Homo sapiens: one gene and its partners. The protein of the gene in region 2 interacts with the protein of the main gene of each other region in a biochemical or structural test. Each region holds a gene or a part of one and is shown on either strand. Other genes may lie near its edges.

The links.
Region 1: of the proteins of CLSPN (region 2) and CSNK1G1, one has a biochemical effect on the other in vitro, tested with the Homo sapiens proteins (2 studies listed by BioGRID).
Region 3: the proteins of CLSPN (region 2) and TIMELESS form a complex in vitro, tested with the Homo sapiens proteins (one study listed by BioGRID).
Region 4: of the proteins of CLSPN (region 2) and USP20, one has a biochemical effect on the other in vitro, tested with the Homo sapiens proteins (2 studies listed by BioGRID, with this or other methods).

The regions. Positions count from the first base shown.
Region 1 is NC_000015.10:64,353,157-64,360,228, forward strand, and holds the start of CSNK1G1 (casein kinase I isoform gamma-1), read right to left. Parts: upstream 3,018-7,072; 5' UTR 2,832-3,017; intron 1-2,831.
Region 2 is NC_000001.11:35,766,962-35,774,317, reverse strand, and holds the start of CLSPN (claspin), read left to right. Parts: upstream 1-4,339; 5' UTR 4,340-4,447; coding exon 4,448-4,471; intron 4,472-7,356.
Region 3 is NC_000012.12:56,446,412-56,453,803, forward strand, and holds the start of TIMELESS (protein timeless homolog), read right to left. Parts: upstream 3,016-7,392; 5' UTR 2,899-3,015; intron 1-2,898. Other genes in the region: MIP (lens fiber major intrinsic protein), read right to left, coding at 4,869-5,054, 6,661-6,741, 7,180-7,344. UniProt on the Homo sapiens protein: Plays an important role in the control of DNA replication, maintenance of replication fork stability, maintenance of genome stability throughout normal DNA replication, DNA repair and in the regulation of the circadian clock.
Region 4 is NC_000009.12:129,859,446-129,866,469, reverse strand, and holds part of USP20 (ubiquitin carboxyl-terminal hydrolase 20), read right to left. Parts: intron 5,534-7,024; coding exon 5,437-5,533; intron 4,928-5,436; coding exon 4,858-4,927; intron 3,285-4,857; coding exon 3,171-3,284; intron 1,168-3,170; coding exon 1,089-1,167; intron 1-1,088.

The DNA of each region.
Region 1 (7,072 bases), on a different chromosome or scaffold from region 2:
ACTGAATTGCAAACTTTGTATTCTCACAAACATCTATTATTACAGGAAGTTATTTGATTTTTGTCCTCTGAGTATAAATTACATTTGAAAATAACTAACTATAAGTCACCTCAAAAAGCAAACTACGTTAGCTGAAAATCTGACATATAATAGGTGACACATAACTATATTATTTTAAATCCACAAAACAAATGAGTATAAAGACTTTGGCCGGGTACGGTGGCTCATGCCTGTAATCCCAGCACTTTGGGAGGCTGAGGCGGGTGGATCACGAGGTCAGGAGATAGACACCATCCTGGCTAACATGATGACACTTCGTCTCTACTAAAAATACAAAAAAATTAGCTGGATGTGGTGGCATGTGCCTGTAATCCCAGCTACTCAGGAGGCTGAGGCAGGAGAATTGCTTGAACCTGGGAGGTGGAGGTTTCAGTGAGCCGAGATCGTGCCACCACACTCCAGCCTGGGTGACAGAGTGAGACTCCATTTCAAAAAAAAAAAAAAAAAAGAAAGAAAAAGACTTCATGGGCTGGGTGAGGTGGCTCACACCTGTAATCTCAACACTTTGGGAGGGCGACGCAGGAGGTTTGCTTGAACCCAGGAGTTTGAGGCTGCAGTGAGTATAATTGCCCCAGTGCATTCATTCTGGCCTAAGTGACAGAGAAAGACCTTGTCACTAAAAATAAATAAAAAACAGACTTCATGTTTCTTGGATTTATTTCTATATCGTAATAAGGAATGATTTAAAGGCAGAAATGTATTCGATTTTGTTTTCTGAATATTATATAAGTTTTTCTAGTAGCATAAATCTAACTGAGATGAGAGGTGCTGCTGATGCTGCTGATTTTTATCTTAAAATTACAAGTAGGCCGGGCACGGTGGCTCACACCTGTAATCCCAGCACTTTGGGAGACCAAGGCGGATGGATTACAAGGTCAGGAGTTCAAGACCAACCTGACCAACATGGTAAAACCCTCTCTCTACTAAAAATACAAAAAATTAGCTGGGTGTAGTGGCAGGCGCCTGTGATCCCAGCTACTCAGGAGGCTGAGGCAGGAGAATCGCTTGAATCCTGGAGGTAGAGGTTGCACTGAGCCGAGATCGTGCCACTGCACTCCAGCCTGGGTGATAGAGCAAGACTCTGTCTCAAACAAACAAACAAACAAACAAAAAACAAGTACCTTCTATTTTACACCCCAATTTTAATTCTCTTTAAAGAGACATGTGATGTTAAGATTTACATACATTACTTTTTCATGTATTTCGTGTTAATCCATACTATAAACACCAATATGGTGTAGCTGAGAAAAATCTATAAAATATATTTTGCTCATTTCAATAAATGGGCCATATTCTACTTTATTATTTTGAATTTTAAGAAACTACTGATAACTGAATTTCATGCTACCTACGATCAATTTCGAGAAGACACTGAAAGTCCTATTGTATGCATTTTTTTTTCAAAATTATCCGGTTGCTTTCCTATCTCAAACCTCGTTTCACAAAACTGGGCTGCCTTGACTGTGTATGATTAATGGTAATAATTTATCTTCTAATTCAAAGGTGGTTCCGTTTAAAATGGGATGTTACTTATAATACAGGTAAGAATTTTAACTCATACTACTTATGAAGAAACAAAAGCTCTGGTAGGTTCCATGACTTGCCCAAGGTCAGTAACTAGCAACTGGCATAGTCTAGGTTCAACCCAAGATTTATCTGCCTGAAAGTCAATACTTCCACTTGACCGCAATTATCTCCTTAAAAGATTAAGACACAGGCTCAACAGCAGAACATTCATTCTCTCTCTGAAAATTCACATATCTGTTCTGAGACATCACTACACAGCACCTAGTATTCAGTCACTGATTGAAACAAAAATGAAGAGGATCTTTCTACTTCATTTAAATTAGGACAGGTTTACTGGCAGGTAAGAAAGAGGCTGCAAAAGCCTTGCCTCAACATGTCTTGCCTAGACCTGTGATACATCTATATGGTTTCCCCAGTCCATTCTTTTTAAATAAACACGTACATCTACTACACAAGACTACACCTGGACTAGCCTATTGTTAAATGCTTTTCAGAATTCCACTTTTCTAAGGTAATTTATACCGGAATTAATATCGAGCTGGGAGACTTGGTTGAATATGTCATTCAGGCACTTTCCAAACATCTTAAGTGTCATTTAGGGGCAACAAACCCAGTTCCACTCTCTTTTACATTGTGATGCCTGCCCACTTGGGGGACATTGCTCCTGTAGGACGTGGGGGCGAGGAAACAGTAAAGGAAGAAGTGGGGGAAGCGTACGGAAGTTGGGTAGAGGAAAGTCTCATTACCCACTCTTGTGCCCTAAGCTCCGCCAAGGGCGGCTCCCCGCGGTACCCAGTCGACTCAGAACCCCCACAACCTTCGAAGTCCAGCTCTGTCCCAGCGGGGTGGGTAGGGAAAGAGGGCAATGGAAGCACGGGATAGCCCCAGTCACCCTGACGAGATCTGTGCCCTCCTTTTGGCTCCCGGGGGATGCTCCCCCTTTCAGAGTAAGCCCTCCAGGTGGCAAACTCCCGGTCCACACCGGCTAGAGTCAGTTTCTCGGAAGGGGCGCCTCCTCCGCCTACCTCTACCCCGCTAACCGAAACTCTCCACCCGCTGTGTCCCTCAGCCCCTCCATTCCGCCCCCGCAACCCTCCACAGACACAAACGCCAGCCTGCGCCCCACCCGGGATCACGGCGTCCCCCACCCACGCCCAGGAAAGGGCCCCCCACCAACCCCCTCAGACACACACACACCCCCTCAGACTTCAGCCTACAGAACCCCGACGAAGCCGGGCAGATACCTGGTCCAGCAGTGCTGCAAGGCGCAAATGAGGCGGGCGCGGTCCCCTCCCCGAGGCGCCAAGTGCTTCTCTACCCACCCGCAGCGGTGGTTTCTCTCTTTCCCAGGAGCGGGAGGGAGGGGAGAAGGCGGACGGGAGGGGGAAGGCGAGGAGCCGAGGGGCGGCTGGAGCCGAACCGGAACCACTAGCGCGGCCCCGCCCTCGTCCCGGAGTCGCAGAGTACCCTGGCGGGCCTAATAGGACAAACTTTGGGCAGGCAGCGTTAAACTGACACCATCACTTCCGGGTTATCCCCACGGCTGCCCCCTCCTTAGCAACCGCGTGGGGTTGCTAAGCGGAAGTGCCTTCAAAGCAACCCACCCCCATTTCTTCTGGGACTACCAGAAGATATATCGGGAGCACTGAGCTCTGCTTTGGCAACACGCTCTTACCTTCTGCTCAAGATCTTAGACCAAGTACACGCTTCGCTGCCAGAGGCACGAAACCCATCCCGCTTTTCCCTTCAACTGTACTCCTCCACCAAGCCCCCGTCTCTATATACTCCTGCTCCCTCCCACCCTTAATCCCGTGGCTGACCCAGTGGCTGTTCCTAAGGCTCCAGGCTCCTCTCTCAGGTCCCTCGAGGGAATTATTTTCTGACGGTTTAGCAAGCATCTCCCTCTTGTGGATTTTTAATTGTGTTTCAACCAGATTTTTAAAATTTCTTTCAATGTTGTGAAAGGTTTTTCATGCACTTAGTTCTCCTGTGACAGCCCATGAAGCCGAATGGTTAGAAAAATGTTGTCTTCACCTACATTTTGTAAGAGCTGCACATGTTTGTGTAAGGTCTGGAATTAACCTAGCCAAATGGAATAGGCAAAAAAGATTCAATGTAACTCGACAGTTATTTTAATCCTTAAAACAGAGAGCAGGGCACATGTTCTCAGGACCTCTTGAGACTGCGCCTCGGGGGCGGGGTGGTGGTGGAAAAAAGACAGAAAACAAAGAAAAAGGCTAAAGGGAGCCCATAATCAAATTTGGGAAGGAAGAAGACTGTCTAATCCTCCACTCAAAACTCAAAATATGCCGGGTGCGGTGGCTCACACCTGTAATCCCAACACTTTGGGAAGCCGAGACTGGCGGATCACGAGGTCAGGAGATGGAGACCATCCTGGCCAACATGGTGAAACTCCGTCTCTACTAAAAATACAAAAATTGGCCGGGCGCGGTGGCTCGCGCCTGTAGTCCTCCTGTAAGCACTTTGGGAGGCCGAGGCGGGCAGATCACGAGGTCAGGAGATGGAGACCATCCTGGCCAACATGGTGAAACCCCGTCTCTACTAAAATACAAAAAATTGGCTGGGGGTGGTGGCACGTGCCTGTAGTCCCAGTTACACGGGAGGCTGAAGCAGGGGAATTGCTTGAACCCGGGAGGCGGAGATTGCAGTGAGCCGAGATCGTGCCATTGCACTCCAATGGCACTCCAGCCTGATGACAGAGCGAGACTCCGTCTCAAAAATAATAATAAATAAATAAACAAACAAACAAAAATTAGCTGGGCGTGGTGGCGTGTGCCTGTAGTCCCAGCTACTCGGGAGACTGAGGCAGGAGAATCGCGGGAACCCGGGAGGCGGAGGTTGCAGTGAGCCGAGACCGCGCCACTGCCCTGCAGCATGGAGACAGAGCTAGACTCCGTCTAAAAAAAAAAAAAAAAACCTTCAAAATAAACTTTCATACCGACACTATGGATAAGAAAAGAGACCTCATTTATTGTGTCTGGGTGATTTGGGGTTTGAAAATATTGGGAAAATGAATGGTTGGGGTAAAAGTTAACAAAGTAATACTCGAAAAAAACAACTCGTATCTGGAGGCTGGGTGCGGTGGCTCACGCCTGTAATCTCAGCACTTTGGGAAGCCGAGGCCTGAGGATCACCTGAGGTAAGGAGTTCGAGACCAGCCTGGCCAAACTGGTGAAACCCTGTCTCTATTAAAAATAGAAAAATTAGCTGGGCGTGGTGGTGGGCACCTGTGATCCCACCTACTCGGGAGGCTGAGGCATGAGAATCATTTGAACCCAGAAGGCAGACGTTGCAGTGAGCCGAGATTGCGCCATTGCACTCCAGCCTGGGCAACAGAGCGAGACTCCGTTTCAGAAAAAAGAAAAAAAAAAAAAAAAGGAAAAGAACCCATATCGTTATGGCAGGTAAAATATTCAGAGAAATGCAGTTGGGCATTCAGAGAAAAATGAGTAAAAATCTTCATTTGGTTTTCCTATCTTAAATAGGTCTTCTTACAAGCAGAATGCTTAACAGTAGCTCCTAAATTTGTTTTCTATTCCATGGCAGTGAATATACTTGCCACGGCAGGCTCTAATTTTATTGGTCATGATAACCTCTTTATAGACACCAAAATTGAACTGTTATCCACCTTAACTGGGGCAGAGAGGAAATGAGCTTTGGTCACTTAAACGAAACACCACGTCTATTGGTTTCCTGTATGCATGAGACAGGGTTAAATTGATTCACCATAGGCAATCACTTCAGCAAAACCTTTAGGAAATCACTTCAAACTCAAATGGGTCAATAGGATGTTTAATACATCTCCACCTCTGCCATTGACATGAATACATGTGGGAGTATATACACATGCACAATTCAAATGGAATTTCAGCTCATCCACTAATTGTTCCTTTAAAAACCTGGGCGGGATGCAGTGGCTCACACATGTAACCCCAGCACTTTGGGAGGCCAAGGAGGGTGGGTCATCTGAGGTCAGAAGTTTGAGACCAGCCTGGCCAACATGGAGAAACCCCATCTCTACCAAAAATCAAAAAAAAAAAAAAAAAATTAGCCGGGCATGGTGGCAGATGCCTGTAATCCCAGCTACTCGGGAGGCTGAGGCAGGAGAATCGCTTGAACCCAGGAGGCTGAGGTTGCAGTGAGCCAAGATCGTGCCATTGCACTCCAGCCTGAGACAGAGCAAGACTCCGTCTCCAAGAAAAAAAAAAAAAACCTGGCTGAAAGTGACAAGTGGTAAACATGTTACCCTGACAAAACAGAGCTTGGTATTTCAATTGCCAAACAGGTTTAAATATCAAAAAACTTTGAAATAGTAAATAAAATGAGCTCAATGAACAACAATATATCTAAAACTATGATAGACTAGGATGTTTCAAAAAATTAAAACATGATTATGGTAAATAATAAATGTGTTCTATAGAAAGAAATGTTTTATTAAGAAAATCAAGTTATGATTAAATGTGATAGCGTAAGCCAATGTAGAAATGCAAATTCCTATGCATCACTCATTTTACCCACTGCCTGAAGAAAAATGATTTATAAGCAGCATTTGTTTACATCCTCTCTTCCTACAGCTTTTTTAAAAACTCCAGGCACTTTTGTATAGGTGTATGAATAACTGGCTTGACTCCTAATTCATCACATGTCCTCTATTCTATTATTTTCAACATACTCATTGCTTTGAGATCTCTAAAGATAGATAGTACAAACCCCACCTAAAATTAGGTATGTGAGTTTAACTACACTTTTGTAATTTTTGTGGGGAATCCATAGTCTCTCTCTTTTTTTTTTTTCTTTTTAGACAGGGTCTCACTCTGTCACCCAGGCTGGAGTGCAGGCACAATCTTGGCTCACTGCAGCCTTCACCTCGTAGGCTCAAGCGATCCTTCTACCTCAGCCTCCCAAATAGCTGGCACTACAGGCATGCAGTGTGCAGCCACACCCAGCTAATTTTTGTATTTTCTGTAGAGATGGGATCTCACTATGTTGCCCAGGCTGGTCTTGAACTCCTGAGCTTAAGCAATCCGCTTGCCTCAGCCTCCCAAAGTGCCGGGATTATAGCTGTGAACCACCACACCTGGCTAATTTTTGTATTTTTTGTAGAGAAGGGGGTCTCATTCTGTTGCCCAGGCTGGTCTTGAACTCTTGGAGGCCTCAGCCTCCCAAAGTGCTGGGATTACAGGTGTGAACTACCACACCCGGCCATGAATCCATATTCTTTTTTTTTTTTTTTGAGACGGAGTCTCGCTCTGTTGCCCAGGCTGGAGTGCAGTGGCGCGATGTAGGCTCACTGCAAGCTCCGCCTCCTGGGTTCACGCCATTCTCCTGCCTCAGCCTCCCGAGTAGCTGGGACTACAGGTGCCCACCACTACGCCCGGCTAATTTTTTGTATTTTTAGTAGAGATGGGGTTTCACCTTGTTAGCCAGGATGGTCTCGATCTCCTGACCTCGTGATCCGCCCGCC
Region 2 (7,356 bases):
CCCAGGCTGGAGTGCAGTGGTGCACGATCTCAGCTCACCACAATCTCCGCCTCCCAGGTTCAAGCAATTCTCCTGCCTCAGCCTCCCAAGTAGCTGGGACTACAGGTGCCCGCCACCACGCCCGGCTAATTTTTGTGTTTTTAGTAGAGTCAGGGTTTCACCATGTTGGCCAGGCTGGTCTCAAACTCCTGGCCTCAAGTGATCTGACTGCCTCAGCCTCCCAAAATTCTGGGATTACAGGCATGACCCACTGCACCCAACCTCCAAAAAAGAACACATTTCTGAGAAACTAAATTAGTTACCTAAGTTTATGAAGCCCTCTATGGGACAGGTTCAGACTAATCCCTGTAAAGTGAGCACTCCAGATGTTTCCTTTGTTGCCATTTATCAACTTGATAAACAAGGATTGTTGGATGACTACAACAATGAAGGGACAGAGAGGTCAAGGTGATTCACAGGTTTCTAAACTGGTGAGTGGATATGGTTCCACTCACCAAAATTGAGAATACAGGTTGCTAATTCTAAATACAGACTCACTTTATCTTGGCACAAGTTAATGTGTAAAATAAAAGTTTCCTGGGGATGGGAGGAGTATGAAGTTGTTGCTTAATGGGCATAGAGTTTCAGTTTTGCAAGATGAAAGGAGTTCTAGGCCAGGCCCGTTGGGTCACACCTGTAATCCCAGCGCTTTGGGAGGCCGAGGTGCATGGGTCACTTGAGGTCAGGAGTTCAAGACTAGCCTGGCCAACATGGTGAAACCCCGTCTCTCCTAAGAATACATACAAAAAAGTAGCCAGGCGTGGTGGCAGGTGCCTGTAATCCCAGCTACTTGGGAGGCTGAGGCAGGAGAATTGCTTGAACCCGGGAGGCAGAGGTTGCAGTGAGCCAAGATAGCACCATTGCATTCCAGCCTAGGCAACAAGAGCAAAACTCCATTTCAAAAAAAAAAAAGAAGAGAAAAAGAAAAGAATTCTGAAGATTGGTAGATTGGTTACATAACAATTTGAATGTACTTCTGAACTGCATACTTTAAAATGGTTAAGATGGTAAATTTCATGTTATATATGTTTTACCACAATAAAAATTGAATGAAAGGTTTTCCTTTCCTAGCTTACCCATGTCCACCCATTGTTCAAATTGGAGCTTTCTCTCTTAGCTTCTGTGATGAGTGAAAAGGTGCTCCCCAAAGATATTTTAAAATACTAATATAAGGAATATTATTTCACTCATTCATTTTCAGAGGGAGCTCAAGAAGTTGTCAAGTGAATGAATTAATTAGTTCAACAAATATTTATCAGTTTTCCTACCTTGAACCTGGGATGTTCTAAGTCCTTTGTTCTCAAAGTGTGGTCTCCAGATCAGCAACACTAGCATCACCAGGGAATTTGTTAGTAATATACATTCCTGTGGGGCACGGTGGTTCATGCCCGTAATCCCAGCACTTTGCGAGGCCGAGATGTGCAGGTTGCTTGAGTCCAGGAGTTTGAGACCAGCTTGGGCAACATGGTGACACCCCGTCTCTACAAAATAAAAAATTAGCTGGGCATGGTGGTGCACACCTGTAGTCCCAGCCACTTGGGAGGCTGAGGTGGAAGGGTTGCTTGAGCCTGGGAGGTTGAGGCTGCAGTGAGCTGTGATCATGCCACTGCACTCAGGGAGAAAAAGAAAAAAAGGAAAGAAAGAAGTATACATCTCTGGACCCCACTTCAGACATACTGAATCAGAAACTTTGGCACTAGGACCCAACAATAGCTGTTTTTACCAGCCTTTCAGATTATTCTGATGCATGCTCAAGTTTAAGAAAGACAATTCTAGGTTGCAATGATACAGAGGCCAAGAAAACAAAACGCCTGTTCTCTTGGAGCAACAACAGACAAATAGATATAAATAAAATTTCAGGCAAAGGAAAGTGTTATCAGGGAAACCAGCATAGGATAAGGAGGCAGAACACAGAGGATGCTCAGGCAGGGTCTTTCTGAGGGGTATGAGCTCTGAAGTCACATAGAGTCTGAAAATTGGCTCCACCAGTTTCTAGCCTTTTAAAAGTCTGGTTTCCTCATCTTCTAAGAAAGAGATAATAATATTACAAGTTTACTCTGAAGATTAAATAAGATAACACTTATAAAATCCTTGCAACTGTTTCTGCCACTGAGTAAGGCTTCAATAAACGTTAGCCCTCCATATATGATGGGGAGTGCCATAGATGTATACCTGGGAATCGTTGATGTAGAAATTAATAGTAAATGGATGAAAAGGTGGATAAACCAAGACACAAAAAGAGAAGAGGATGGATGATGGGCTCTTGTTGGTGGGGACAGAAGTGGATTGAGAGATGGTGGGGAAGTAAAGAAATGAAGATGTGGAGAGGGAGCTTTTTTCTGAACCCAGCTAAAGGTGGAAACTTGGAAGAGGAGGCCAGTGGATTGGGTGAAGAACCAACCATTTGGTATACCTGTGACTGAGGAGGTTCTCAGGATGCAGGACTTTTAGTGCTAAAACTAGGAAAGTCCTGGGCAAGCTGGGCCAAGCTGGCCACACTGGCAGTGGATATGACCATGGAGGGTGAAGTGAGCAATAAATACTCTGACCTTTCTTTCCTGGTGGCCTCTCATCTCCTTACAGTAACCTTATAAGGTGTCTTTACAGGGGCCTGACCCAACCAGAAGGGCAAGGGAGCTGGGATAATACAGTCTAGAGAGGTCAGCCTTGCCTTGACACACACCAGGGTAAAGGAAGGACAGAGAATTGACCTGGAGAGGCAAAAAATAATGGCCAGCACAGTGGCAAAACTGGGATTAGAATTGTCTGGGATAGGCCAGGTGCGGTGACTCACACCTGTAATCCCAGCACTTTGGGAGGCTGAGACGGGCGGATCACGAGGTCAGGAGTTCAAGATCAGCCTGGCCAAAATGGTGAAATCTTGTCTCTACTAAAGTTACAAAAAATTATCTGAGCGTGGTGGCACATGCCTATAATCCTAGCTACTCAGGAGGCTGAGGCAGGAGAATCGCTTGAACCCGGGAGGCGGAGGTTGCAGTGAGCCGAGATCACGCCATTGCACCCAGCCATGGTGACAGGGAGAGACTCTGTCTCAACAAAAAAAAAAAAAAAAAAAAAAGAACTGTGTCTGGGATAAACCTGATTTCAGAGCTTCAATTCTTTTTCCAGCCTTGTTTAAAGGTAGAATGCCCTCTAGGAGTGATGAGTGCTTTCTACATCCTCAAATTAACTCTACAGAGAATTATAAAGATTATCCAACCATATTCTTTGGTATCTGAGCAGCCCACAAAACTTTTTTCTTTAGAGACAAGGTCTCCCTCTATCGCCTACGCTGAAGTGCAGTGGTGCGATCATAACTCACTCTAACCTCAAACTCCTGGACTCAAGCCATCCTCCCACCTCGGCCTCCCAAAGCGTTGAGATTACAAGCGTGAGCCATGGAGCCCGGCCCTCTTTAAAAAATAAAAGTGGGCCGGGCACAGTGGCTCACGCCTGTGAGGGGTATGAGGCCTCCCAGCACTTTGGGAGGCCGAGGCGAGGATCATTTGAGATCAGGAGTTCGAGACCAGCCTGGCCAACATGGTGAAACCCCGTCTCTACTAAAAATACAAAAATTAGCCAGGGGTTGGTGGCGGGTGCCTGTAATCCTAGCTACTCAGGAGGCTGAGGCACGAGAATCGCTTGAACCCGGGAGGCGGAGGTTGCAGTGAGCCGAGATCGCGCCACTGCATTTCATCCTGGCTAACAGAGGGAGACTCCATCTCAAAAAAAAAAAAAGTGTGTGTGTATACACATACATGTGTATGTGTATATATGTGTATGTATATATGTGTGTACATATGTGTGTGTGTGTGTATATATATATATATATATATATATATATATATATATATATATTCAGTGGTAAGTGTCATGTACAAGAGGCACACAGGATCTAGCTGCTCCAGAAATGAAGTCAGTGGAGAAAATCCCCACGGGAACCTTGGAATTCCTCTAAAAAGTTCAGGTACAGGACACTCCCAGGTGCCCAGGAACCGTTTCCCAGCTCACTTCCCCCCGAAAGACTCACCCCTCCAATCGCACTCGATGCTTTGGCAAGTGTCAAAGGTCAAAGACCACGGCTCGCCTGGTACCGACTGCCCCGCCCCCGTGCACCTCCAGCTCCCCCAGGCTCCGCTACCAGCAGCTGCGACCCGCCAACTCAGCCTGGGTAATAGGAGATTGGGCGGCCAGAGGCGCTGCGTGATTGGTGGGTCGGAAGGGGGCGGGGACTCGCTGGAAAGCCCCCTCTGGATTGGTGCAAACCATCTGGGTGGGACCTCCACTCTGGCTGGGCGGGAAAGCAAGAACAGCACTGCTGGGCTGGAGACGGCGGGAGCCGCTGCTCTCCGGCTGAGGGAATCAGAGACAGCTCCGTCCCTAGTGGAGCGCAGGGGAGGCAGAAGTCATGACAGGCGAGGTGGGTTCTGAGGTGAGTTTATGCACACGCCCCCCACGGGGGCTTAGAAGGCCGGGCACCGAGAGGTTAGGTGGGGCCGGGGTAGACCCCGCTGACCCGAGGCGCCCGGGCGGGAGGACTGCGGCTCCCGGCGTTCGCCGCGCCGGCTCCCGCGGCCTCGAGACTCGGCCGGGATGGGTTCCGACCGGGCATCCCGTCCCGCCGCCGGGCTTCCCGCGCTTCGGGCTCCGTGGCCGGAGAGCTCCAGGTCTCTGCGGCGCGCACTGCCGGCAGCCCAGCCCCTCTTCAGCCGGTTCCTGCCGCCAGCCCTCCCCTTTGGCGCGTTTCCTGTCGCGGAAGCTCCTCCCCTCAGGGTGCTCTGAAAGCCGGGAGGCTCTAGCCGAACCCGGCCGCAGCGGTGCGGGGGGATTCTCCGCAGAGAGAGGGCGAGCGAGGGTGTTAGGGAGTTCCACACTGGGCCTGGGAGGGGCCCTGGAGGTCATCGCGCGCAGGCCCTTTGCGTTTTCCGACCGGGCCCCGAGTGGGGAAGTCACCGCTGGGGCTCCTGGCTGGTGGCTGGCAGCTCCCTGGCGAAATTGGGCATAGAAAACAGATGTTTCCAGAGCTGTGTCCTTTCTGGGCCGGATTCGGGCAAGGCACTCCCGCCTTAGGAGCAAAATTTAAAGGGGCGCCAAAACCCTCAATCAAACTCATATTTTAATGCAATATTTTTAAAAAACCAAAATTAATGCAAAAACTTTTTATGATTTGATATTGAACAAAATATCAGACGTTTAAACAAAGACGAGATCCGACCAGTCATTTGCACGACCTTGCCTCAATCACCTCACCCTAATTCCATCCCTGTTTCCAATAAACTTTATTTACAAAAGCGGGCATATTATTTACCTCATGAGCTGTAGATTATTGATTTAATTTTTTAAAAAATATTGCATTAATGTTATTCATTTTGATTACTGAATTTTTTGAGACCTCACCCCACCCTGTTACTGGCCCTGCCCTTTGACGTTGCTGCAAATTGCCTAGAAGATAATCGTCATTCAAAGCAGCCCTATTCCTTGAGCTGTCTGGTTACCTAAATTCGGTTTCCACACTCACAAACAGAAGTAATAGTTTTACTGCTTTGGATTGTTGAGAGGATCATCAGTGCATACATATTAATTCTCAGCAATCCCAGCACTTCGGGAGGCTAAGGCCGGCAGATTGCTTGAGCTCAAGAGTTCGAAACCAGCCTGCATAGAAAACATGGCAAAACCCCGCCTCTACAAAAAAAAAAAAATTAGCCGGGCGTCGCCTGTGGTCCCAGCTACTCGGTCCCAGCTACTCGGGTGGCTGAGGTGAGAGAATCCTTTGGGCCTGGGAGGTCAAGGCTGCAGTGAGCCATGATCCTGCCACTGCACTCCAGCCTAGGTGACAGAGTGAGACACTGTATCAAAAAAAAAAAAAATTTGTACCTTGCATTCAAATCAATTTAATAATTTTTTTTTTTTTGAGACGGAGTCTCGCTCTGTTGCCCAGACTGGAGTGCAGTGGCACAATCTCGGCTCACTGCAACTTCTGTCTCCTGGATTCAAGCGATTCTCCTGCCCCAGCCTCCTGAGCAGCTGGGACTACAGGCACACACCACCACGCCCAGCTAATTTTTGTATTTTTAGTAGATACGGGGTTTTACTGTATTGGCCAGGCTAGTCTCGAACTCCTGACCTTGTGATCCACCCACCTCGGCCTCCCAAAGTGCTGGGATTACAGGCGTGAGCCACCATGCCTGACCAATTTAATAATTTTTTGAGAAACCACTCAGCTGAGGCCTTGTGCCCTGTTACATTACTGATGTTCATATTTCTCCCTTTATTAATAAGTTGATTCAGAGCCCTGAGAACACTAAGGAGGTAGACTTGGCATCTAGGGTTAGCTTTAAGGTCACTAACTGATCAAGTCACCTAACACACCCCTCCTCCTTAGGTTTTTATTTGCGACTTTTTAAACTGTCTTATTTAGAAATTTTCAAACCTATACAACCGTAGAAAGGATGGTATAATGAACCCATCACCTTACTTCAACTACAGTTTGAATATCTCTCGTCTGAAATGCTTGGGACCAGAAGCGTTTTGAATTTCAGATTCATTTTGGATTTTGGAATATTCGCATACACATAATGAGATATCTTGGGGGAGGGACCCAAGTCTAAACATGAAATTCAGTTATATTTCATATATACCTTACACACATAGTCTGAAGGTAATTTTATACAGCATTTTAAAATAATTTCGTGCATGAAGCAAAGGTTTTACTGCAGCTCATCATATGAGGTCAGGTGTGGAATTTTCATCTAGTGGCATCATGTCAGTGCTCAAATATTTTGGAATTGGGAGCATTTCAGATTTTCAGGTTAGAGATGTTCAACCTGTATTTTCAAGTCATGGCCAATCTTGTTTTATTCATACAGCTACCCATTTTTCCTCTCACAGGATTATTTGGAAGAAAATCCAAGATATCATATTATTTGAACCACAAAGATTTTAGTGTGCATATCTAACAAACAAGAGCTTTCCAAAAATAGATACTACGATATTATTACCACACCTAAGAAGTATCTAGTCAGTGTTCAGATTTCTTTGACTCAGAGATATTTCATTTATTTTTATATGCCACTTTAGCATAATTATTTACATTTTTAGTTTTTTGAATCATCATCCGAAGTTGGCATTTTGTAATTGTTTATATTATATATGTGTATATATGCATATATGTATGTATTTTAAGATATACATACATATATAAAGCATACATTTATGTATATAGAAATATACAGGGCCGGTTGTGGTGGCTTACGCTTGTAATTCCAGCATTTTGGGAGGCTGAGGCAGGCGGATCACCTGAGGTCAAAAGTTCGAGAC
Region 3 (7,392 bases), on a different chromosome or scaffold from region 2:
TGACCTCCAGTGCCTACAATACAAAGTCTTTCATGAATCTCTCTCCTGTTTACCTCTCACGCTTCTCTCTCAAGCCACTACTCTATCTAGAATGGCCTCCCATCCAAATATCAGCTTAGCTCTGAAGACTCTGTGCAGGCCAGGCGCAGTGGCTCATGCCTGTAATCCCAGCACTTTGGGTGGCTGAGGCGGATGGATCGCCTGAGGTCAGGACTTCAAGACCAGCCTGGCCAACATGGTGAAACCCTGTCTCTACTAAAAATAAAAAAAATTAGCCAGGTGTGGTGGTGGGTGCCTGTAATTCCAGCTACTTGGGAGGCTGAGCCAGGAGAATCGCTTGAACCTGGGAGACCACGCCACTGCACTCCAGCCTGGACAATAAGAGCAAAACTCCATCTCAAAAAAAAAAAAAAAGACTGCCCAAAAGGGACTTCCTCCTGACTTCTCCATACAGAAGTGACCTCCTTTTCCTTAATGTCTACTGTGTACCATATTCAGACTTCCAACATGGTACTTACAATTCATGTTGTATATAATAGTTAAAATCAAAGTCTATCTCCCTCCATTAGCCTTAGATTCCCTGAGGACAGGAATTCTTTTTATTTTTTTTTTTTTTGGAGACGAGTCTCACTCTGTCACTCAGGCTGGAATGCAATGGTGCAATCTCGGCTCACTGCAACCTCCGCCTCCCGGGTTCAAGTGATTCTCCTGCCTCAGCCTCCCAAGTAGCTGGGATTACAGGAAAATGCCACCATACCCAGCTAATTTTTGTTTTTTTTTTTTTTTTTTTTTTTTTTTAGTAGAGATAGGAATTCTTATTCACCCTTGAACTTTCAGAGCCTTGCTACAGGATCAGAATTTCCAGCGATGGGGCTTAGGCAAGTGTTTTGACAATGTTCCTCAGGTGATTCTAACTATCCTATGTTAACTGCACGAAAACGTAAACTCTTTCACATCAGGAATCATCATTACGCAGCACAATGTAAGTGCTCAATAAATGCTTTACTAAATTGAACTGAAACAGAGAAGTCTGGAAGATGAGGGAGAAGAGTTTGGAGCTAAAGATTTGGAGGCATCAGGATGTAAGATGGTGTGAGTGCAGTGAGAGGAGGAAGGAAGCCAGGAAGGACTTCTTGATGACCCTTTCACTGTAACCACAGAAGACTCAATTACATGTGTTTTCCTTAGGACTTGAGTTCCTTAAGGGTCGGGAACTCTCCATCCTACTCATCTCTGTAAGCCTGGCGCTAAGCACAGTGCATGGTACATGTTAGGAGCTCAGTAACCTTTTATTGATCTTTTATTGAGCTGTATCAGTGCCCCTGGTAATAGAGGGGGGTAAAAAACTTCAGGGACACACAGGAAGAAGTGACTAACTTGGCATAGGAAGCTGGATACATTGATTTTCAGAGGGACAATTAAGCTCAGTCTTCAAAGAGAAGTTCGCTTGGCAGAGCAGTGTCAAGATCTTCCAAGCAGAAGGAACAGCAGGAACTAAGTACTGAGATATGAAAGAGGGCAGCCACAATCTTTCCACGTGGCCAGGAGTCAGGTGCGTAAGAGATTTACAAAATGAGATTGAGAGGGTCAGGGCCAGACTGAGAGGCCACAGACACCCACCTACGGATTTAAGGCTAACTGTGGGTGGTCAAAGAGGAGTTTTAAATTTAACATCAGATGATCTACCTTTACTTTGTACAAAGTACTAGTAGGGCCGGGTGTGGTGGCTCACACCCGTAATCCCAGCACTGTGGGAGGCCGACGCGGGCGGATCATTTGAGGTCAGGAGTTCGAGACCGGCCTGGCCAACATGGTGAAACCCCATCTCTACTAAAAATACAAAAATTAGCCGGGCGTGGTGGCGGGCAGCTGTAATCCCAGCTCCTGGGGAGGCTGAGGCAGGAGAATCGCTTGAACTGGGGAGGCGGAGGTTGCAGTGAGCCGAGATCGGACCACTGCACTCCAGCCTGGGCGACAGAGCCAGACTCCATCTCAAAAACAAAACAAAACAAAACAACCAAAAAAAACAAACAGGCCAGGCGCGGTGGCTCACGCCTATAATCCCAGCACTTTGGGAGGCCGAGGCGGGCGGATCACGAAGTCAGGAGTTTGAGATCATCCTGACCAATAAGGTGAAACCCCCATCTCTACTAAAAAAAATACAAAAATTAGCCGGGCATGGTGGCGCGCGCCTGTAATCCCAGCTACTCAGGAAGCTGAGGCAAGAGAATCGCTTGAACCCGGGAGGCGGAGGTTGCAGTGAGCCGAGATGGCGCCACTGCACTCCATCCTGGGCGACAGAACGAGACTCCGTCTCAAAATAAAATAAAATAAATAAAAAATTGAAAGTACTAGTCGAAGCACGAATGGCAAAGAATTGAGAGGCTCAAGGAAAAAAGCTTCATTAGCGGCTGAGGTCCAGGTGACAAACCCGAACAAGGCAACGAAGGGAGGGAGTGAGAAATCCGTTCCATAAAACCCACGATATAAGTAAAGCGGCCTGTGAATTCCGACCACTGCTGACCGCCAGGCCACACACCGGTTTTTTTCAGGAGGTCTCAACTAGATGCTAAGCTCCGAAGTGGAACTCCCTCAGGCACTTTCTGTTCTAATTCAGGAATTCCAAGCCCCTTTCCATCACAACCCCATCCCGCGGGAGACCCAAGCTGTGCGGAGCAGCGTAGGGCTAAGCCCGCGTCCGGTGAGACCCGGGAACGCGGCGCGGGAGACTAAGGAGCAGAGTACAGAATTGCGCGTGCGCGCCTGCAGCACGAGCCCCGCCCCCTGGCTCTAAACCGGGTGGCGGGAAAAGGGACTCAGCGTTTCCCGAGAATGCCCCCATAGCTTCGAAAGGATCCCCGTGTCCGCTTAGCGCCCTCTCGCCACACACTCACTCACCCGCTCCCTGCGGGTCCTCAGAAGCCCGGAGGAGCCACCGGCCCTCTGGCGCGGGGCCGCAGCCTTTCCGCCACCAGGCTCAGCTGGACCGGTCCCCGCCTGCGCGAAGAGCGAGGCGGGGCGAGCCGGGCTGGTCCACGTGACTCCGAGCGAACTGGGGCGGAGATTGGTGAAGAAGGAAGGAAAAGGGAAGCGAGTGCAGGGACTGTTTTATGTGAGGTCGATCTAAAAATCACAGCGCTATGAATTTTCTGCTGAATTATAGTAGAATCAAAGTCCGATTAGAGGTGAATTTACAAACATTCTTCCCCTTCTTCTAGTCAAGCGGACTATTCCAAGTCTTAAATAGTTAGTTAGAAAAGTTAGGTTTTATTTGGGAGGAAGTAAAGAGCTGAAGTACAGGGAGGAATGGTCTTCTGGGATAGGGGATGTCCGTTGTATTATAGGTATAAATTTAAAGCTTTCAAAGTATGCAAGAGGCTCATAAAAGGAAGAAAGCAACCGTAAATATTCATTGAACAGTTGAGGGTCTCTTCTGGCCTCTGCTGAGATGATCTTGCCAAAAGGAAAAGAAAATAGGGCTGTGCTCTGGCCCCCTGTAATCCCAGCTACTGGGGAGGCTGAAGCAGGAAGATCGCTTGAGCCCAGGATTTCTAGACTGTAGTGTGCGATGATCGTGCCTGTGAATATCCATTGCACTCCAACCTGGTCAACATAGTAAGACCCCCTCTCAAAAAAAAAAAGAAGATAGGGCTCAAACAAATAATAATCTCCTGAATTATTAAGCATTTGAATAGAAGGAATCAATTTCTGGGGTATGAGGGAGTTAGAAGAGATTTGCTTCAAGATGAAAGGACGGATGACAGAGAAATGAAAATACACAGACACAAAACAAGAAAAAAAACACGGAACTAGTGATAAAAGCAGAAAGATGCCATTTGAGGAGTGTTTTGATTTGCTCTAAATAAATTAGAACAGAGTCAAAGCCTCTCCCCTCATGCCCCCTACTACCACCCGTTCATTTATTTGCTCCAGGAATCAGATTTCCTGTGTTGGCCTTAGGGAACAATTGTGGGGCTTAAATACCATCTGCCAGGCAGCCACAACAGTGGATGTCAGGCTGACCAGTTAAGCTGCTTAATTTTTCTAGATTCTAGGCTTGCCCAAGCTCTATTTAGGTTGGAAGCTCTTTGGCCCAGGACCTCTGAAGAGATCCATTATGTCAGAATGAACACAACCAGCCAGCGGATGTAGACAGGTTTACGTGGCTTTACAGAACAGCTAAATCCTAGTGTTCACTTTTCTCAGAGCTACTTCCCCACCCAAGTCCCTGGGGCAAGCATCCCTAAGATAAGTAGGCTATATATTCCCATTAACTTCCCCCCAATTCTTCGGTACACCTACATCCTGATCTGGGGCTAATACTCCGTTTTCACCACCCACCTCCCTTGAGTCCCTTCTCCTAACCCTTGGAAGCCTTGTCTCCTCCACTTCTCTCCATCTGCCTCGTGTGAGGAGTAACTCCCTGCTTCTCTGTTCCCTCAGAAATCAAGAGCCACACACTTGACTGGCAGCAGGGTAAAGGCCAGAAACTTAAGGTGTCGGTTACCCAGTACTCACCATACTGGGTCGAGGAAGGGAGGTATAGGATGGCACCTCTTTTTGCTTCCTTAGCTCTCATGCCCCAAAACTCAGACACAGCCACACTCACATTCATATGCACAATCAGCACACACGGCGAAGGGTGGTGGGATGGGGAGGAAGGGAAGTTTGCACCAACCAGCTCATGAATGCAACTTGAAAGATTTCACACAGCAAAAGGAAAAAAAAAAAAAAAACAACCACATACATAAGTTAAAAAATAAAGAAGTACATGACCCTCCCCACAGTCTCTTTCTTCATCTAGGGGCTGGCTAAACCCCTCCACGTAAACTCAGAAGCTTTCTACTCCCTCTATTCAGCTGGAGCTTCTACAGGGCCTGGGTGTTCAGTTCAACAGGTTCCCCTGTGACCTCTGGTTGTCCATTGGAGACATCGGGTTTGGCACCCTTGAGGACAGACAGTCTCTCAGAAATACTCTTGAGCCGGGGGAAGAGAAGAAAGTCGTACAGGAGGCTGCCCAGACCCCCTCCAATGATTGGGCCTACCCAGTACACCTGTAGAAAGAGAAAAGGAATACTCAGGCTTGGGGAGGGGACAGAGTAGCAACGCTGCTCTTTTTCCAGCCACCTTAGTGGAAAACAAGATATTGTACACTTGATATCTACAATAAACTCACCATTTATTTTCTGATTCATCAAATTACTCCTTTATCCCACACCTTAGCATGTGTATATTCTATTTGTTATCAATTTGCACTAGTTTGTATGTTGCTTTCAAAAAAATTTTATACATTGTGGTAAAACACATATAAAATTTACCATATTAAATATTTTTGGACAGGCGCAGTGGCTTATGCCTGTAATCCCAGCACTTTGGGAGGCTGAGACGGGCGGATCACAAGACGGGCGGATCACAAGGTCAGCCATTTGAGAACAGCCTGACCAACAGGGAGAAACCCCATCTCTACTAAAAATACAAAAAGTAGCTGGGCGTGGTGGCAGGCGCCTGAAATCCCAGCTACTCAGGAGGCTGAGGCAGGAGAATTGCTTGAACCCAGGAGGCGGAGGTTGCAGTGAGCTGAGATCCTGAGATCAAGCTCCACTGCACTCCAGCCTGGGTGACAGAGGGAGACTCCATCTCAAAAAAATATATATATGTTTTTAAGTGTACAGTTTAGTAGTGTTAAGTATATTCACATTGTTGTGCAACCTATGTCTAGAACTTTTTCATCTTGCAAAGCTGTAACTCTATACCCATTAAACAACTGCCTATTCCACCCCACCCCCATCAGCCCCTGGTAACTATCCTTCTACTTTGCGTCTGTGAATTTGAGTACTCTAAATACCCCATATAAATGTAATCATACAGTATTTGTCTTTTTGTGACTGGCTTATTCACTTAGCATAATGTCCTCAAGATTCATCCATGTTGTGGTATGTGTCACAATTTCCTTCCTTTTTACAGGTAATATTCCATTTATGTATATACCACATTTTGTTTATCCATTCATCCACTGAGGAACACTTGGGTTGCTTTTACCTCTTGGCTATTGTGAATAATGCTGTTATGAAAATGGGTGTACAGCTTTGAAAAATTTTTAAATTATTTCCATATGTTTGGCTTGCACAACATCAACATAACCAATATTTATTGAGTGCTTACTTTATATCAGATTCTGTGCTAAATGTTTCTCACATATAACTTTCACACATTTCTCGTAATGTCCCATTTTATAGTAAAACAAACTGAAGCACAGAGTGATTATTTGCCCATGGTCACACACAAAGCCGATAACGTATTAGAACTGGAATGGGGCTGAGGCCCATCTGTGCTCACAACACATCTTGATCTCTGAGAGCAGAATTTATTCTGCTCATATTTAGTTGTCTCTCTTCATACCCGCTAGTTCAGCAACCAGTGAATACTCAGTGCATACTCCCTGACTAACCAGAGAAGGAAAAATATGAGCAAGAGCCTCTCCTTCTAGCAAAATCATGAATCCTGCTCACACAGGCATGCCAAACTCTCTGACAGCCCCCTTAGCTGAGTGCTGGTACAGCAGCCAACACACGCAGAAGGAAAGCAGGAATCCAGCCTGGAACCTGCAGTCCACAACCATCCAGAAGGGCTTCAGGATCTTGCCCCTCTCCCTTCACTCACCCAGTGGTTAGTGAAGTTCCCAGTGAGAATGGCAGGAGCAAAGGAGCGGGCAGGATTCATGCCTGCACCAGTATAATACATCTGCAAAAGAGACAGTTGTAACTGAGACACCCCCCTACTGCACCCCAGCTTCTCTCCCCACAACCCACATTGCCCCTGAGAGCTGCCATCTTTTCTCCAGCCAGCAGCAAGTGGAGAGGGACAGCCTGCATGACTCTCCAGGGGTTCCTGCAATGGGGTGAGGGCAACTGATGCCCTGTCTGGGAACAGACTATGGATCCATAGGCAAAGCCCATGTCTAGCCATGATACGTTCATTTCTACCTTGGGGTCAAGAAGGACTAGATATAGCAGTCACAAGAGAGGGATAGGGCAGAGTTGATTCCTTTGTGCCAGTAGAGAGTGCAATGGACAATGTTCATGTTTGACAGTGAAGTAGGCAGGAAGAACCCTTAAAAGTTGGGAAAGGTTTAGGGGCCCCGGAATCCTTGAATGAGAAGTTGCTCTCCTTCCTGCTTACCCCAAAGAGGTGCCCCAGGGCAAGGGAGAAGCCAACGGCCAGGGCCACGGAGCCCAGTTGGCCATTCCGCCTCTCGTCGTATGTGGCAAAGATGCAGAGCACGAACTGGAGCGTCAGGAAGATCTCCACTGTGGTTGCCTGGCCCACGCTCACCGCAGGGTGCAACTGTGCAAAGGAAGAAGAAGAGAGACAGCTCAGGAGGGCTGCCACAGT
Region 4 (7,024 bases), on a different chromosome or scaffold from region 2:
GGGTAGAACCTCTCTGAGCCTCAGCTCTTTACCTGTAACGTGTGGGTGACAACAGTGCCCACTTTGTGAGACTTCTATGAGGACTAAGTTGTGACCACTTAAATGGTGCTCAGTGAATTTTAGTCATTGTGCATGTTATCACTCCCCAAAAAGAGAGGTGTCCAGGCAGTGCTGAGCTTCTCAAGCAGGAGCCAAAGGCCCAGCAGACTTCATCCTGGGACGGGACAGCAGGCAGGGGGTAGAGGGCGGAAGTTGTCCCCACATGACTGCCACTCCGTCCATGGTGCTCATTTCAGGCAGCACAAGAGGTGACCCAGCCAGGTCCAGCTCTGCCTGCAGGCCTGGCATGAAAGCCCAGGCTGTGGGCCATCTGGGGCAGGAGGCTGGAGGGCAGGAGCCATCAGCCCGGGGCTGAGGTGTACGCGTGGCTGCACTCTGTCTTGGTCTCATTATTTTATAAAATAGAAAAATGTGATTGGTTTCAAAAGGGTTCTCTAGATTTAAAAAAAATTTTTAATCAAACTTTTTACTTTAATAAAAGTGAAATTTTGCCTGTGGTTTGGGGAAATGAAACCCTGTGTCATTTTGGGTGCAACGCGGAGGCCCTGCAGCAAGGTTGCCTGGGTTCAAATCTCCCCTCCGCCGGGTGCAGTGGCTCATGCCTATAATCACAGCACTTTCGGAGCCTGAGGTGGGACGACTGCTTGAGCCCGGGAGGTCGAGGGTGCAGTAAGCCATGACTGCACCACTGCACTCCAGCCTGGGTGACAGAGTGAGACCCTGTACCCACCCTCCCCCACAAAAAAAAGAATTCCCCTCCACCATTTACTAGCTGTGTGGCCTGTGCAAGTGGCTCGGCCCCTGAACCTCAGTCTGTCCATCTGTGAAGTGGGGTTAAATGTCAGCAGGTTGCTGGGAGGCTCCACTGTCCTCACACGTGTGAAGGGCTTAGGAGTGAGAGCCTGGTCCGTGAGACCTGCCAACCAGTGCTCAGCTGCCATTGCGATTTTCCACTCTGGTTTTGGCGTCAAAGTCAGGCCTGGTGGGTCATGGCCTTGGGTGTCCCCTGGGCAGCTCAGATGGCTTACCTGCTGGGCATAGCCTCGGAACATTGGGTTGACCAACTTGATCCCATGAGACAGACTGGTGGGGACCACGTAGCTTGGCCTGTAGGAAGCCCAAACCCATTAGTCCAGGTAGCCTGCCTTGAGCTGCTCATTCCCGAGAGAAGCAGGCAGCCAGCCCGTCAGGCTGGATCAGAGTGTGGCGTTTCCTGACATTTGGGGAGGGGCCTACTCAGCCAGGAGCCCCAAGAGGCTCACACATCTCTACAGACAAGAAGAAAATGTCAAGTCATAGCTGCCTCAATTAAGCAAAGAGCTCAAATAAAATAGCATCATTTCCTTCTGGTGCACAACAAACTCGCCTAAACATGATTTGTTTTCATTCTGAAACACTTACTGTGGTTTTCTCATTTCAAAAGTAAGACATGTTCATTATTGACAAATCTAAAATTTCAGAAAAGTACAAGAGAAAAACACCACCACCAATGGCACCAGATACTTACCATTAGATTTCTGGTTCTGTGAAACTACAGATGCATATACAAAAATACATACAGATACACATTTAAACTTGGCTTCTTACACAAGCGGAATTATATTGTACCATGCTGGGTTTTTTTTTTTTTTTTTTTGGGACAGAGTCTTGCTCTGTTTCCCAGGCTAGAGTGCAGTGGCATGATCTTGGCTTGCTGCAACCTCCGCCTCCCGAGTTCAAGTGATTCTCCTGTCTCAGCCTCCCAAAGTGCTGGGAATACAGGTGCGCGCCACCATGCCCAGCTAATTTTTGTATTTTTAGTAGAGACGGGGTTTCACCACATTGGCCAGGCTGGTCTCGAACTCCTGACCTTGCGATCCACCCGCCTCGGCCTCCCAAAGTACTGGGATTACAGGAGTGAGCCACTGCACACAGACTTTTTTTTTTTTTTTTTTTTTTTTGAGACAGGGTCTCACTCTGTCGCCCAGGCTGAAGTGCAATGGCATGATCAAGCTCACTGCAGCCTGCCTCAACTTCCTGGACTCAAGCGATCCTCCCACCTCAGCCTCCTGAGTAGCTGGGACCACAAGTGCTCACACCACACTCAGCTAATTTTGTAGTTTTTGTAGAGGCGGGGTCTTGCTGTGTTGTCCAGGCCGGTCTCAAACTCCTAGGCTCAAATGATTCTCCTGCCTCGGCCTCCCAAAGTGCTGGATTTACAGGTGTCAGTGACTGCATCTGGCCCCACGCTGGTTTTTAATCTGCTTCTACATTTAATACATATTTCTCCCATGCTGGTTTGTTTTGTTTTTGTTTTTTTTTTTTTGAGACAGAGTCTCGCTTTGTCAACAGGCTGGAGTGCAGTGGTGCGATCTCGGCTCACTGCCACCTCCGCCTCCCAGGTTCAAGTGATTCTCCTGCCTCAGCCTCCCGAGTAGCTGGGACTACAGGCACACGCCACCACACCCAGCTAATTTTTGTATTTTTATTAGACACGGGGTTTCACCATGTTGGCCAGAACGGTCTCGATCTCTTGACCTCGTGATCCACCTGCCTCAGCCTCTCAAAGTGCAGGGATTACAGGCGTGAGCCACTGCGCCTGGCCCTACGCTGGTTTTTCATCCGCTTCTACACATAATACATATTTCTATGTGCTCATTTAAAATTATTCCCAACTTTGACTTTTCCTGGAGAAACAGATCTAATCACAGACTCTGATCTTTAAATTAATTTCATACTGTGCCAGAAGCTCCATCCAGTCTGTGCTCCCCTGCCCCACACCTCCTTCTACACACACAGTCCTGGCTGAGGCCGGGTCACCATGTCTCTTGGCAAAGACATCTACCAGTGGCTGCTCGGTAGGGTCAACAGTAGGTCAAATTCTAGCTCACTTTTTGCAGGTTCTATGACCTTGAGCAAGATACTTAAAGTGCTCTGCACCTCAGTTTCCCTATTTGTAAAACAGGACTGGATGCAATTTCCACCCCGCAGGCTTGCTGCAAGCATTACCCGGGACAAAGTGAGGCAAGTCCTCGCTGGGGGCTGAATCCACAGGAAGTACTCAATCATGGGTGCTGACAGGAAACCCCAGTCCCCACACACCGCCCAAGGCTAGGGATGCAGCTGCTCACCGTTTCTTATGCCAGACCTCAGAGACCAGCTTCTGGTAGCTCTTGCACAGGGCTGGCTTCTTATCTGTGCGCACCAGGCCGCCACACTCCAAGAAGAACTGAGTCAGCGGCGGGCTGGGTGCAGGGGAGAGAGAGCCAGGTCAGGAGAGCAAATGAGGCATGCGGCAGTTTAGAAAGGGCTGCATAGCGGGGAGCCCTGAGTGCTCGCACAGGGAGCACAGTGGCCCTGGACCCAGAAACTCCTGAAGGTGACTAGAAGGCTCCTACCAGTTATGAGAAAATTGTATCCTCCAAAATTCATCTGCGAAGCCCTAACTCCCAGAGACAGGGCATTTTTATTTTATCTCATCTTATCTATCTTACCTTATTTTTTTATTATTATTATTATTATTTTGAAACAGAGTCTCCCTCTGTTGCCCAGGCTGGAGTCCAGTGGTGCAATCTTGGTTCATTGCAACCTCTGCCTCCCGGGTTCAAGTGCTTCTCCTGCCTTAGCCTCCCGAGTAGCTGGGATTACAGGCACATGCCACAATGCCTGGCTAATTTTTTTGTATTTTTAGTAGAGACAGGCTCTACTAGTTGGCCAGGCTGGTCTTGAACTCCTGACCTCAGGCGATCCACTTGCCTTGACCTCCCAAAGTGCTGGGATTACAGGCGTAAGCCACGGTGCCCAGCCAAGACAGGGCCTTTAAAGAGGTTATTAAAGTTAAAACGGATTGGGTGCGGTCAATTTTTCTTTTTTTTTTTGAGACGGAGTCTCGCTCTGTCACCCAGGCTGGAATGCAATGGCATGATCTCAGCTCACTGCAACCTCCGCCTCCCGGGTTCAAGCGATTCTCCTGCCTCAGCCTCCCCAGTAGCTGGGACTACAGGTGCGTGCCACCACGTCCAGCTAGTTTTTTGTATTTTTAGTAGAGACAGGGTTTCACCATGTTAGCCAGAATGGTCTCTATCTCCTGACCTGGTGATCCATCTGCCTCGGCCTACCAAAGTGCTGGGATTACAGGCGTGGGCTACTGCGCCCAGCCTGGGTGTGGTCAATTATTAACAATAATTGACCTGCATCCTGCCACCTGAGGATAGTTACTAGGAACATTTTGGGACATAGCCTTCCAGACTTTTCTACGCATTTGTACCCATTCCCTCTCTGCTTCCCGCATACATATACTGCATCTCTAACCTCCACTGGGTAGGAGAAGCACGTCAGACACAGGAGACATCCTTGGCCTCATGGAGCTCACAGCCTTATCCTTAATGGAAAATCGCATTTCTCCCATAAAACGGGATTGTACCATGCAATGCTTTATAACCTCCTTTTTCCCCCACTCACCAGATTCTGAACCCCTTCTTGTTTCAATGCATGTTGTCTTGTGCCATTTTTCCTGCACTTGCTGCAAGGGCTATGAGAATTTATACTCTCTTGCAGATGGGCCTTTAAATCATTTCCAGTAAACAACAGAGCACTGAGCCTCCTTGCACGTACAACTTCCCCAGCATCTCCGGTTATCTCCTCAGGATACATTCTGACTGGGAGGATTGCTGGGTCAAAGGGTATACATGCTTTCAGGCATTTTGCTGTGCATCCTATACATGTGTTTGTGGGCAACCGGCTGGGGGCTGCTACTGCTGCTGTTTCCGGGGCTTTGCCAGGGACAGCTCTCGGCCCTCGGACAAAGTGTCGACCTACCAATTGGACAGGGCCTGCAGGGCAGCGTTCATGTAGCAGGAGTTCCCGAGGTTCTTCATGCCCGTGAGGCCTGGGAAATAAACACAACGGGGAGGAGCAGGTGAGCACCCTGCCCCACCGAGGAAACCTTGCAAGTCACATTTGGCACAAAGGTGTGGCTCTCAACTGCCCAAGACCCAAGAAGAGGACATGGTGGAAGCGTTCCACCCCAGGAATCTTCCCAGTAAACTAACGTGGTTCCTGCTCACAACAGCTGCGGTTACCTGAGTGTTTTAAACAGATGAACTCCTTTGCCCCTCCGCCCAGCCAGGCCCACTGTCCAGACCATACAGCAGAGGGGTCGGCCTGCCCAGGGTCACCCAGCTGGGAGAGGGGACAAGATAGCCAGCTCTCCAGAACCTTAGCTAGGCCAGCCAACTTCTGGGGTGAAGCCACCATGCTAAACAGCTTATCCGTCACCCCATCCTTCCTTGCCCATATAGCAGGTGCAAATAGAGACCAAGACTCTGGCGGTTTCCAGCCTCCAGATGAGGGCCCCCAGCCCAGCCCATCAGCTTCCCCTGCTGTGGGGGCCATTACCTCGAGGTTTCAGGTCATCGTCCTCTGACTCAGACTCTCCTTCATCAGCCACAGCAATAGGAACAGCTTTCAGAGGGTGGGAGGGTGGCGGGGAGTCCTGTGTTAAAGACCCAAAGTGAGGAAAACAGTGAACAGAGGGGCTGGGGTCAGAGGCCCAGGTGTCTCCCAAGGGCTGGAAGTCCAGCCCTACTGCCCGGAAGGCCCTACTGGGCTGAGCCAGTCCAGCTGAGCAGAAGGTACTGTGAAAAGAGATAGGATTGGTGGCCTTGCCCTGGGAACTCCTTGATTTGTGTGTGTCTGTGTTTTTTTAGAGACAGGGTCTTGCTTTGTCACCCAGGCTGGAGTGCAGTGGCACAATCAGAGCTCACTGCTGACTCCAACTTCTGGGCTCAAGGGATCCTCCCACCTCGCCCTTCTCAGTAGCTGAGACTACAGGTGCATGCACAGCACCCAGCTAACCTTTTTATATTGCCCAGGCTGGTCTCAAACTACTGGGCTCCAGTGATCCTCCCAAAGTGTTAGGATAACATGAGCCACTGTGTCCAGATGTTGACTTGCATTTTTTTATTGGCAATAAAAAAAATATTTTATTTATAATAAATTTGGAGAAAAATAGAAACATAAACATGCAACCCCATTTTCCTGAGAGAACTGCTGTTAATAGTCTGTATGTATCTTATGTAGACGTTTTTTTTTTTCTTTTTGAGACAGAGTCTCGCTCTGTTGCCCAGGCTGGAGTGCAATGGTGCAATCTTGGCTCACTGCAAGCTCCGCCTCCCAGGTTCATGCCATTCTCCTGCCTCAGCCTCCTGACTAGCTGGGACTACAGGTGCCCGCTACTATGCCTGACTAATTTTTTGTATTTTTAGTAGAGACGGGGTTTCACCGTGTTAGCCAGGATGGTCTCGATCTCCTGACCTCGTGATCTGCCCGCCTCGGCCTCCCAAAGTGCTGGGATTACAGGAATGAGCCACCGCGCCTGGGCTATGTGGACTTTTTTTAAGAGATAGAGTCTTGCTCGTCGCCCAGGCTGGAGTGCAGTAGCACAACTATAGCTCACTGCAACCTTGAACTCCCGGGCTCAAGTGATCCTCCCACCTCAGCCTCCCAAGTAGCTGGGATTACAAGCATGCGCCACCATGCCTAGCTAATTTTATTTTTTGTAGAGACAGGGTCTCACGCTGTTGCCCAGGCTGGTCTCAAACTCCTGGGCTCAAGCGATCCTCCTGCCTTGGCCCAGCAAAGGGCTGGGATTACAGGCATTAGCCATGGCGCCCAGCCTGTATTATACAGACTTTTAACTGTTAATACACATGCACAACAAAAACAAGATATTGCATATACTGTTTTATAGCCTTTTCTATAAAAATTCATAAATATCTACCAAGTTCACAAATGCATTCAATAAGCATTTTGAGCAATATTGAGCCCTATCATGTGACTGTCTAAACAGAAGGAGAGGCCAGGTGCGGTGGCTCCTGCCTGTAATCCCAGCACTTTGGGAGGCCAAGGCAGGCGGATCACTTGAGGTCAGGAGTTCAAGACCAGCCTAGTCAACATGGCAAAACCCTGACTCTACTAAAAATAT